Linked DNA regions of Homo sapiens. The protein of the gene in region 1 purifies or fractionates together with the protein of each later gene. This does not show direct contact. Each region holds a gene or a part of one and is shown on either strand. Other genes may lie near its edges.

The links.
Region 2: the proteins of HPF1 (region 1) and MKLN1 purify together in Homo sapiens (affinity purification with mass spectrometry; 2 studies listed by BioGRID and IntAct, with this or other methods). This does not show direct contact.

What each region holds. Positions count from the first base shown.
Region 1 is NC_000004.12:169,728,811-169,734,084, reverse strand, and holds the end of HPF1 (histone PARylation factor 1), read left to right. Parts: intron 1-2,208; coding exon 2,209-2,381; intron 2,382-4,375; coding exon 4,376-4,507; 3' UTR 4,508-4,615; downstream 4,616-5,274. UniProt on the Homo sapiens protein: Cofactor for serine ADP-ribosylation that confers serine specificity on PARP1 and PARP2 and plays a key role in DNA damage response.
Region 2 is NC_000007.14:131,393,664-131,400,962, forward strand, and holds part of MKLN1 (muskelin), read left to right. Parts: intron 1-3,603; coding exon 3,604-3,713; intron 3,714-5,574; exon of another isoform or gene 5,575-5,577; coding exon 5,578-5,770; intron 5,771-7,299. UniProt on the Homo sapiens protein: Component of the CTLH E3 ubiquitin-protein ligase complex that selectively accepts ubiquitin from UBE2H and mediates ubiquitination and subsequent proteasomal degradation of the transcription factor HBP1.

The DNA.
Region 1 (5,274 bases):
ATTCGTTCAATGCGATACTGGTCCACCAAAAGTGGGAAAGGGAACAACACATTTTGTGACTGGGGTAACAGCATGTATTCTGTACTGTCGTCAAGACTGAACCAAATGTTATTCATAGACTGGGGTTAAAAGCACTAGTATATAGTATATTTTTAATACCATCCTTGGTAATTTTTTTTTTTTTTTTTTTGAGACAGGGTCTTACTCTGTCACCCAGGCTGGAGTGCAGTGGCATGACCACGGCTCACTGCAGCCTGCACCTCCTGCACTGGGTGATCCTCCCACCTCAGCCTCCCAAGTAGCTGGGACTACAGGTGTCCACCACCAAGTCCAGCTAATTTCTCTATTTTTTGTAGAGACAGGGTCTCACCACATTGCCCAGGCTGGTCTCCAATTCCTGGGTTCAAGCAGTCCTCCTGCCTCAGCCTCCCAAATCCTCCCACTAGGATTACAGGCGTGAGCCACTGCGCTCAGCCCGTCCCTGGTAATATCATACCTGATATTTTTCGTTAGTCTCATCAGAACGTTGTGCCTCATACATAGAATTTAACATCACCTATCATTCTTGAGTATAATTGTTAATGTTTTAACCAGTCTTCCTCTCCCCCAGTATGGCAGCCACCTGTTTGGAAATGTTTTGTTGGTTTGTTTGAATAATATCCATTCTTTTCATTCTCAAAGAAGTACTGTTTGTTAAAAAGGACATACAATTTGTCAAAAGGAAGTCTAAATAGATATTGTTCATACTTCCATCTCATTTGCGTCCTGAAATCGGATGTACATTAACATCCAGAAAGAATGAAAAAAATCTTGAAAGCCAAAATTGAAATGTTAATTTGTAAAAATATATTCTTTAGGTAAATATTAGACATTTTCTCTCTATTCTTACCTCAAACGCATGCTTGCCATGCCTACTCTTCTCCCAATTTGGTGAAGGTTTTAGTTAAAGGTTTAATTCTGCAGTGATTTCTTGTCTCTTACATTGTTGTCTTTTTCTGGGTTTAGTTCACCACAAGTCACAAGTCAGTAATTTTTTTTAGCAAACAAGGTAGGACAGGGCAAAAAGAATAAATTTTGCCTACTTGGATTATTTTTTAATCCAGTTGTCTTAGTATCAGGACCTCGAAGGATACCCAGAATCTGATGCTCAAGTCCCTCAAATAAGTTGGTGTAGAATTTGCATAACTTACGCACATCCTCCTGTATATTTCAAATCATTTCTAGATTACTTAGAATACCTAATATAAAGTAGACACTATGTAAATAGTTGTTATACTGTATTTTTAAAATCCGTATGTTTTATTTTTTTCCTGAGTATTTCAATCCGCACTTGGTTTAATCGAAGGATGTAGAACCCTCAGATACAGAGGCAACTATATAGTGCATGAACCAGGCTGGCAGACTTTCCATGTACAGCCAGATAGTAAATGTTTTACACTTTGTGGGCTACATAATCTATCACATTCTTGTTTGATTTTTCAACCATTTAAAAATGAAAAAAACTTAGTTTGAGGGCAGTTAAACACAGGGTGAGCCAGGTTTGCCCAAAGTTTGCCAACTCCTGGACTAGTCTGCTGAATCTTTAAAGCTTATGTAAATGCATGATGACCACCATGGAATAGACTTTTTAAAAAAATCATGACTGTATCTGGGCCCAGTGGCTCACGCCTGTAATCCCAGCACTTTGGGAGGCCGAGGCAGGCAGATCATGAGGTCAAGAGATCAAGACCATCCTGGCCAACATGGTGAAATCCCGTCTCTACTAAAAATACAAATATTAGCTGGGCGTGGTGGCATGTGCCTGTAGTGCCAGCTACTTGGGAGGCTGGGGCAGGAGAATTGCTTGAACCTGGGAGGCAGAGGTTGCAGTGAGCTGAGATCGCACCACTGCTTTCCAGCCTGGTGACAGAGCAAGACTCCGTCTAAAAAAAAAAAAAAAAAAAAAAATCGTGACTGTAACTAAATCCTGTGAAATAGTCGTTAATAAAGAAATACTTGTTAACCTGTTTTTAAGCTTGAATCCTAAGTAGAAAAGTTACCAAATTGCCATTCTAAATTAGAGTGCTGAAGACTACTACCCAAGGTGGCACAAGTTGTATTAGTACAAAGTCTTAGGAGGAAAAACCCTCTTTATAATCTTCTTACTTTTGAAGACTGATTCATTTTCTAACTATGTAGATAATCTTTTATATTATTGATTTCTTTCAGCTGACCTCAAGAGAATTTGCAAGACAATAGTTGAGGCTGCAAGTGATGAGGAGAGACTAAAAGCTTTTGCTCCCATTCAGGAAATGATGACTTTTGTGCAGTTTGCTAATGATGAATGTGATTATGGCATGGGGCTTGAATTGGGAATGGATCTCTTTTGCTATGGCTCACATGTGAGTAAAAAAACCCTCCACCTTCTACCCACTGCCACACCTCCCTCCTCTCCCCGCGACATACATCCACACATGAATACGTGCACATTTATACCCCCAAATTCCAGCAGAGGTAAGACAGGGATTCAGCTTGTATTTCAAAATGAAGTTTTTGAAGTGATTTTTTTTAACGTAGATGTCCTAAAAATGTTTTAAACTCATCTTATATTCTGGCAAAGGTGAATATTTGCATTCACTCAAAGGTGAAGATTATTTGCATTCAGGCTTACATTAAAGTGAATTTACTCATTAGACACATTATAGGGACATGCCTTCTTGCCGTGTGTGTACGTTTGGGGCTAGGTATGGGGGTGTGTGCACACACCTTAGGCTCCATTTCGTTTCCATTGTGGTGGGGGTATTTGTTATTGTGCTTAAATTCTTAGATGAAAAATGCACTTTAAATTATTTAAGCTTTATAAGAGATGCTGTTTTACCGTTAACTAATTGCTCATTAAATAAGAAAATTTTACTTAATAGCTAAACCAGTGCTTACTCGACCATAGTTGCCTGAAGATCAAAGAGGCAATAAGGTGTAGCGGATATGACCTGTTTCTGGGGCCAAACTGGTTGTAAATCACATCTTCCCAGTGTGTAAGATCGGGCAAGCTTTCCAACACCTTTGCATCTGTTTCTTTACCTGTAAGATATGTGTGCACATGTGCACGAGTGCATACCCACACGCAGATCATTTAATTCTCATTTAACCTACTTTGTAACCAAGTCACAGAGAGGCAAAGCATCTTGCCCAGGTTCACACAAGCAGTCTGGCTCCAGAATCAGTGCCTAAATCAGTGCAGTAATTCCCAAACTAAAATGCATATGACTCACCTGCAGACATTGTTAAAATGCACTCTATCGGTAGGTCCAGCATGAGATCTGAGACTGCATATCTGTCATGCTCCCAGGTGACGGTCATGCTGCTGCTCTACAGACCACACTGGGAAAAGCAAGACCAAACCAGTAGCTCTCCAGCTTTAGCGTGCATCAGCGTCAATGGGAAGGCTTGTCCAAACGCTCACTGGCAGTCTTCCCACCCTCCCCAAGTTTGATTGAGTTCTAGGGTGGGTCCTGAGAATTTGCATTTCCAACAAGTTGCCAAGTGAAGTTGATGCTCCTGGTCGGGGGTGTACATTTTGAGAACCCTGCTATAAACCATATTATACTACTTTTCTTTGCCCACCTCATAGATAGTTATCAGTAAAAATAATCAAAATGCTTAACAGCCAGAATGACAGTCATTGACCAATCCAAATAGTACTTGACCTGCTAGAGAGGCCCTAGCCATAAATAAGTAGAGCCATAAGATGTGAACCAGTGAATAGCAAACTTGCTTGTTGTGAGAATGAAATAACATGTATGAGTTATAAAAAGGTTTAGCACAGTGCTTACCGCATGTTAAGGGCTAAATGTTTATTATGATCAGCAAAACGGTGGTATATGTAGATAATAGCAGTAATCTCAAATCTTTTGATAAGCCTAAGGCAGTGACTCTTAACAGGGATTGGGAGGCGGTACGTGTTGGGGATGGGGGAGAGAAGGAATTTGAGGATAAAGGCAATACGATCTGAAAACTTTCAGCATAGCTATTCTTACAGAATTGAGGAAAATAAAGCTTAAACTTTTGCCTGGGAATACACTGGAGAGAATAAAAAGTATTTGTGGGCATTGTTTGGGGTGAGAAAAAGTTGATAAAACCTAAGGGAATAAGGAAGCTCGATTTAATTTGGTTTTCTTAATTTTCAAGATATGCCATTAGTCATCTAGAGCAACAAGACTGCCTCTTAGAATGCCAGGCGCCTGTCCTTAAATTATGTTCACTAACCACCTGAGGGTGTAGCTAAAATGATTTTGGAAGTAGCCTTTGTTAAACAAGTGCTTTGTTGATATATTTTCTGCTACTTATTAGGATATCTGCTATATTCTCTGCTTAATGTTATATTTTTATTTTTCAGTATTTTCATAAAGTTGCTGGCCAGCTTTTACCTCTTGCATATAATCTGTTGAAGAGGAATCTGTTTGCAGAAATTATTGAGGAGCATCTGGCAAACAGAAGTCAAGAGAACATAGACCAACTTGCTGCATGAGTAAGGTGGCTTTGATTGGTGTACAGTATTTCAAAGGACTAGTATTAAACTTGTGATTTTTGTTTTGTTTTTAAGGAATACAAAAAATAAACATTTACTAAAAACGTTTATAAGGTTCTTCTGCCTGGTTTTCCTTCTTTAATGTGCAAAAAAATGGCAGTCAAATCACCTAAATGGTGACCCTAATCACATTTTGGAGGACAATTAAAGTCACCCTCTGATATGTCACAGGAAGCCACTGTCTAATGCCTGTGGCTATAACTAGACCATCCTTACAGAGTCCTGTTTCAATATTTATCATATGGGCAACTAAGAATATTTCTTCTGAGTCTTGAGTTAATAGCTGTAGCTTTAAGGATCGGGTTTATGGCAGGAGAAGAGGGGAACAGAAGGAAACTTAGAAGGAGACTCATGACACTGCAATAAGCACTCTTCCAGGGTGCCTGACCCCGACCTACCCAAACTGCATTTTGAGTAGTAGCTCCAGGTGACTCCCAGTAAGTAGTCCAGTTATCCCATTAGGTATATTATTTTAAATCTTCTCTTGACTCAGTCATTTACTAATACAGTCTAGTATATTGATACATAGTATATAGTTTTAGTATAAGATAGTAATCAGTATACCATTACTTTAGATTTTAAAGTTTTTCATTGCAAATGATTTCAATGGATGTTTAGTACGAATCTGTGGATAGCTGTGTTTTACTAGATCCAGATTTTCCTTAAACCTGATTACATGTCCTTCACCTTAAAAGTAGAGGGCAGGG
Region 2 (7,299 bases), on another chromosome or scaffold:
TTACCTAGGCTAGAATTTAGTAGTGTGGTCATAGCTCACTGTAACACTGAACTCCTGGGCTCAAGTGATCCTTCATCTGGCCTCCCAAGTAGCCAGGACTACAGGCACATACTATCATGCCCAGCTGATTTTTAATTTTTTTTTGTAGAGATAGGGTCTCACTATATTTCCAGGCTGGTCTTGAACTCCTGGGCTCAAATGATCCTCTTGCTTCTGCCTCCCAAAGTGTTGGGATTACAGACATGAGCCACTGCACCAGGACCAATAAATGAATTCTTAATGAGACTTGGACCTGGAAATCTCTAATATTTTATGTCTGGTGACATATATAGACTATATTCTTGGTGCTTTTAGTTTAGAATCATTATTTTATTCTGACTCTTATACTACTAGATGGTTATTGCTATGTGATTTAGTAGATAAACTTTTAAATGACACTGCTACATAAAGAAACACTAAAACAATAAAGATAATTTAATATTTGTTGTTAAAAAAAAACTTTTTGAAATGTGTGTTGTTTACATACATAAACAGAAAGGCATATTAAATATCCCAGCATTCCTTCATACATCCTTATGGCTGGTTGCTACTGCCTGTGTTTTTATTCACACAGCTTCCTTTATATCAGTGGTCCCCAACCTTTTTGACACCAGCGACCAGTTTTGTGGAAGACAGTTTTTCTGTGGACCCAGAAGTTGGGGCAGGGTATGGTGGAGAGATGGTTTTGGGATGAAACTTTTCCATCTCAGATCATCAAGCATTAGATTCTCATAAGGAGTGCACAACTTAGATCCCTTGTATTTGCAGTTCATGATAGAGTTTGCAGTCCTTTGAGAATCTAATGCCAACGCTGATCTGACAGGAGGCAGAGCCCAGGCAGTAATGCTCCCTTAACACACTGCGCACCTCCTGCCATGCGTCTGGGTTCCTAACAGGCCAGGGACCTGTACAGGTTTGGGCCTGGGGGTTTGGGACCCCTGTTTTAGATGACAAAAATATATAAAAGTATCATACCCCATACATTTTCCTTATTCAGTCGGATATTGGAAATCATTACGCCTGGTATCAGCTATTCTGGATATTCTATTTTGATGCTTCATCAAAACTCTACAAATGTTAGTTTCTTAAAGATAGTTGCATTATTGATTCTGAAACTGCATCAGTGAATCTGTTGTTACATTAAAATTCACTGGTCTATCTTGGACTTTTTACCCAGTGGTCTGTCTTGGACTTTTTACCCAGGTGTGATTTTGTAACATTCATTGGTTATTTAGAAAATATGGTTCACTGAATTACACAGATCTCCCAAATGTTGAAACACTTCATTATGTAATATTTTAAAAATCACATTTATTAATATCACATCTAATCTCATTTAAAAAAATCTAAGTGTTGGGAATCAGTTAAGCTCACAGTGGTGGGTACTTATCTTCCAAAATTCTAATTTTTCTCTTGAAAGCTTGGTTTTTATCCTTGACAGCAAATATCGTTAAGTATTTTCCTTGAAATAACATGTAAATGTTTGGCAAATACCCAAATCTGAATAATCATAGGTTGTCTGTTTTTCTTTCAAGAATAAAATGGCATTCCATGAAAAATAAATTGATTTTTAAACTCACAACTTAAATAATTGTACAGGTCCTTTCCTTGAGATAACCATTGTGGTTTGGTACACAACAAAAATGCTTTATATGCAAATCTCATTTTGTCACACAGGATACTAGACAGATGTGTACTTGATGGGAATTTAATAAAATTAATTTTTCTGTGCCATTGGTAAAAATTATTTTTATTTTATTTTATTTTATTTTATTTTATTTTATTTTATTTTATTTTACTGCCAGTGTATGGTGGTGAGGCATACAGTGCACCTTGTACTTACTGAGCACTAATAGTACTTTTTGGTGCCATTAGTTTGGTACCAAGGTGCTAGCAGTTTTACACACCATTGCTTTTGTACCATTAGTGCAATGTTGCTATTATTAAAAGGCTAGAAAAGTGTTTATTATGTTATTTTGAAAAATAGTTGTTTTGAAAAATAACTAGTGTTGTTATTAAAAAAAAAAGTAGTTTTGACTACGTGGGACCTCTGGAAAGACCATTGGGATTTTGATTGACATGATGTTAAATTTATAATTAATTGGAGAGAGCTACACATTTACAATATTGAGTTTTCCTATATAGGAACATAGTATGTTCTTTCATTTATTCAATTATTCACTAAAATTTTATATTTTCTTATAAATATTGCGTATTTTAAGTTTATTCTGAAGTATTTTCAGCTTTTTGCCATTATAAATAGGACTTTTTTGAGGTATATTTTCTAATTGGTTATTGTAGGTATAGGAAAAGTTGATTTTTGTGTGTTTACCTTGTTTACAAATAAAAAGTTTTTCAATTGAATATATATATATATTTTTTTCCACTGAGACACAGTCTTATTCTGTCGCCCAGGCTGGAGTACAGTGGTGTCATGGCAGCTCACTGCAACCTCCACCTCCTGGGTTCAAGTGATTCTCTTGCCACAGCCTCCCAAGTAGCTGGGATTATAGGCGCACGCCACCATGACTGGCTATTTTTTCTATTTTTAGTGGAGACAGAGTTTCACTGTGTTTGCCAGGCTGGTTTTGAATTCCTGGCCTCAAGTGATCCTCTTGCCACGGCCTCCCAAAGTGCTGGGATTACAGGCTTGAGCTACTGCTCCTGGCTCTCTTGAATTTTTTTAGGTAGACAGGTCATCTTTAAATTACAATTCGTTTTTCTTAATTTGTTTGTTTGTTTCCTTATTGCACTGGTTGAGACCTCTAATTAGTGACAAATAGTAGAGATATTGGACATCTTTGTCTTGTTCTGACTTGAGTGGGAATATTTAGTATTTTCCCAGTAGGTTTAATTTTTAAGGTTTTTGATGCTTTTTAAAAAAATCTAAGGAAATTTTTTATTGCCTTATATTGCTTATATATTGAGGGTTTAAAAATAATAATGTATTTAAGTCATCAAATGTGTTTTTTCTTTTATTTTGTTAACGTGGTAGATTATATTAATATAGCTCCTATTATTTATTGAACCATCATCTTTCCATTCCTGGAATGAGATCTGTTTGGTTACAATGAAAATCTGATAGAATTTTTTGCAACTTTTCTCCTTTTAATTTGTATTTAAATATGTATTCATAGCTGTGATTGGCCTTAAGTCTTTTTTCTTCTGATTTGGATTTCAGGGTTGTGCCACTGATAAATAATTTCAGTCTCTTTCAGTGTTCTGATGTAGACTAAATTCTAAAGTAATTTTTTGCTGCTTGTACATTTGATAAAATTTACCTGTTAAATCATCTAATTCTGGTGGCATTTATTTGGGGGTAGACATGTGCACATTTTTAATTTATCTTACAGTGTTTTTATTAACTAAGGAAATCTTATGGTGGCATGGGTCATCTGTTTCGTTTTACTGTTGTAGCCTTAGCACCATGCTAGTCATATAAAAGATGCCCAGAAAATTCGTTGAATGAATCCTTATAAGGTTGAATAGTGCTTTTACTTTGCTAAAGTTTTATTTGAACTGTGTTAATATTTTTCTTCTTCTTTTTGTTTTTTCTCCTTAAAGTTCCACTCTTGTCCTGGGGACCCAGCTTTAACTTTAGCATCTGGTATGTTGAACTTAGTGGCATTGATGATCCTGATATAGTACAACCTTGTCTCAACTGGTATAGCAAGGTAGGACTGTGTTTTAAATCCTGACTTTAATGCCTATAAAAGGAGAAATATGTCAATCTCTTATCTTCATTGAGAATAATTTAAAATATTCAAAATAATAATAACAACAGTTAGCTAACATTTTATTAAGCACTTCCAGTCTGCCAGCTTTTAAGGAATCCTGATAACTCACTTAGTCATTATCACTCTATGAGACAGGTGCACTTATTATCCCCATTAGTTTATAGATGAAGAAATGAAGAACAGAGAGATTAAATAGTTTGCCTAGGATCACACAATTGTAAAGTGTTTGAGCCAGTATATGAATTCAGGCAGTTTGGCTCCACAGTCTGCTTTTATGTTATTATACCCATTTGACTCTGAATTTTGTTTTTTCACTTGTATTCATATAAATACTTAAAACATAGTTTTTAGTGGGATAGTTTTGCAGCCTAATGGAAAATTTAAGATGTGGATGTGATTTAGACTCCTAAAGTAGTCAACAGGGTTAAAAAATACTGCTGTTTAATATAACTGTAATATATATTGTTACATGGTAGTTATGATAAGTCTTTTTTAGAGGCCAAGAGTAAGTTAATTATAGTTAACTAATTATAATTAAGTTGTTAATTAATTATAGTTAATTATAACGTGTAAGGATTAGGTGTTTAATGACCTTTTATTAGTTAAGTCAGCTATCAACTGATTTGTTTCAAATCTTATACATCTTCCTAAACACATTATTTTCTTGCCTTATTAAAGGGTCATGCCTATAAGTAAATCATTGTTGTTTGATTATCATGCAGGCTTCCATGTCATCTGTTTGTTTGAATAGTGGTATACTTAGGAAGTTTGAGGTAGTCCCAGAACATATTCCTGAAGTTGAGATTTTTTTAAAAAAATCCTTTTTATAAGATTGTATTTTTGGCATCTATCCTATTAGGGGAAAATTTTAATAAATTAAGTGCCTGCTTTTTGGATTCCAGTTAATTGAGATGTCTACTTTATAGCTGCTTAATAGATGAGGTAGTTCAGGCTTAGAAAACAATTAAATTGGGCCGGGCGCAGTGGCTCACACCTGTAATCCCAGCACTTTGGGAGACCAAAGTGGGCAGATTGCCTGAGGTCAGGAGTTCAAGACCATCCTGACCAACATGGTGAAACCCCGACTCTACTAAAAATACAAAAATTAGCTGGGCGTGGTAGCGCGTGCCTGTAAGCTCAGCTACTTAGGAGGCTGAGGCAGAATTGCTTGAACCTGGGAGGCGGAGGTTGCAGTGAGCTGAGATTATGCCGCTACAGTCCAGCCTGGGAGACAGAGCAAGACCCTGTCTCAAAAAAAGAAAGAAAAAAAAAAAGATTAAATGTCTCTTTTTGATGATTTTTGAGTCATAAAATGTGTTTGTAAATTTGAAATATCTGTATACTTGATACTTGTCATTCAAGTAATAGTTTATTTTTAAAAACCAAAAATAGCATAATATAATTTATGTGGATTATTTAATGTTCTTTTGTGCTCTCAGTACCTGCATTGTAATGGGATTAATAGATGCTATGGAGTTATAATTTTTACAGTATTAAGTGGAGTTTAAGAAATAGATGTTCTCCCTTTCTTCAAAGTTGAGGCTCTGGAATTAGGTTTGGTTTAATAACTTTTGGCTACATATTTTGTGACCTTGAGCAAGTTATTGGAACAGGCCAAGCTTTAGTTTTGCTAGTTAAAAGAGCCAAATAATGATACCTAATGAATCAGGTTAGTAAACTGCTTGGCACATAGTGTTAATAAATGCTCAGTGTAGATTAGTTATTTTTACTGTTGTTATTGTTTCCTACAGTATCATCTAACCAAATCTCTTCTTTCCATACTTACTCTGTGTTCTAGTAGTACCGTGAACAGGAAGCTATTCGCCTTTGCCTAAAACACTTCAGACAACACAACTATACAGAAGCTTTTGAGTCACTGCAAAAGAAAACCAAGATTGCACTGGAACATCCCATGTTAACAGATATTCATGACAAGCTGGTGTTGAAGGGTGATTTTGATGCTTGCGAAGAGTTGATTGAAAAGGCTGTAAATGGTATGAAACTTAGATTGGTTATTAGGGTAAATTCAAGTACATACGGGAAACTTTTTCTCAAAAATAATATAGGCTTATGCCAGTTATTACTGTAATTTTTTTTCTTGGTTTTTTACTCGGTTAAAGATTGTTATCTCTTTGGATTAGGGACTTCTTTCATGTAAAATAGATCCATGATGTAATGAGACTTAAAAAATTGAAATGTACTTGAACTCACATATAAATTTAAGTTGTCATCTTGGGAAACCATGCACTTACAAATGATTAACTAGCATTAAACTGTATCAGAAATAATATTTTGATATTGGTAGCCAATATTCATTAACAGTGTAGTTTTGAGGAGAAGGGGGGCTAGATAATAAAAAATGTTATTAGTAAACAATTATATATAAGGAACAAGGAGATTTGTATTGAAAACAACTTCCTTGTGGTGTGAATGCTATATAATTGCTGATTTTCTTGTGTGACCTGTAGTCTGGCTTTGAAAGAAATGTGAATAGTTGAACATCTGTATTATCTCCCAGGGTATTGGCTTTGGAGGGTAACACTCATTTGGATTTTTAAGGTCTGATGTGTTTTGTTATTTAAACTAAAAAGGGACTCTGTTGTTGCTTATAGTATGACTTTTTTTTTTAATCTTCCTCAGTAACTTTCATAGTGACAAACAACAGAATAGTTGCACAATATAAAACTTGTGGAATTGAATTTGGTGCATCCTTTATAGGAAGAAATAAGAAATAATAGATTATTCAGTGGTTTGCTCTCATTTTAATTTTATCACTGTTATTATCGTCTATTATTAGGTATTCATATTTATCAGATATTGGGTAGCTAAAAAAAAACCAGACTTGTACTGCCTTGAGTTTATAAATTTAAAGTTAACTTAAAATGAATTGCTTTGAGCTCCACTTTTTGAAATATGACAAATCTGCTTCTAAGCCTTGTGCATTGTTATTGCTTACTTGATTGATGATGATACTTGCAAATAAATGATAGGTATGTTTGAAATTGAGTATATTTTGGAGTATAAACAAACAAATAACTAATCTCTTAACAGACTTTAAAATGCTACCAATAAAAAAAAAATATATATATATATATATATATGCCATTTCTAGGAGTGAATTCTGTGGGTTTTTTTTAACCTCATAAGATGAGGGAGGCATAGGTAATTTTAGGGCTTTTTTGTTTGTTTCAGATATTTATCAGTAAGGCATTTGATACCATTTTGTGAAGGGAAAGCAAAACAACAGCCACAGGCAACTCTACAGTTAATAAGCTAAAAACAGTTATATTTTAAAGGTCTCTTTAGTGACGTACTCAGTTGGTTAAGATTAGCTGATAAAAATCTTGTGCAGTTTTGATATCTACAGAGACTTAACTTATCCTTTGGCTCTAGAAAGGAACCAAGTTTAGAGAAATTAGTAGTTGCTCAATTCTTGAAACTTACAGCCACATCATAGTTTTTGTACTGTGAATACTATGGGCTTTCTAAACTGGCCTGGAACACTGTTAGTTAATAAACATTC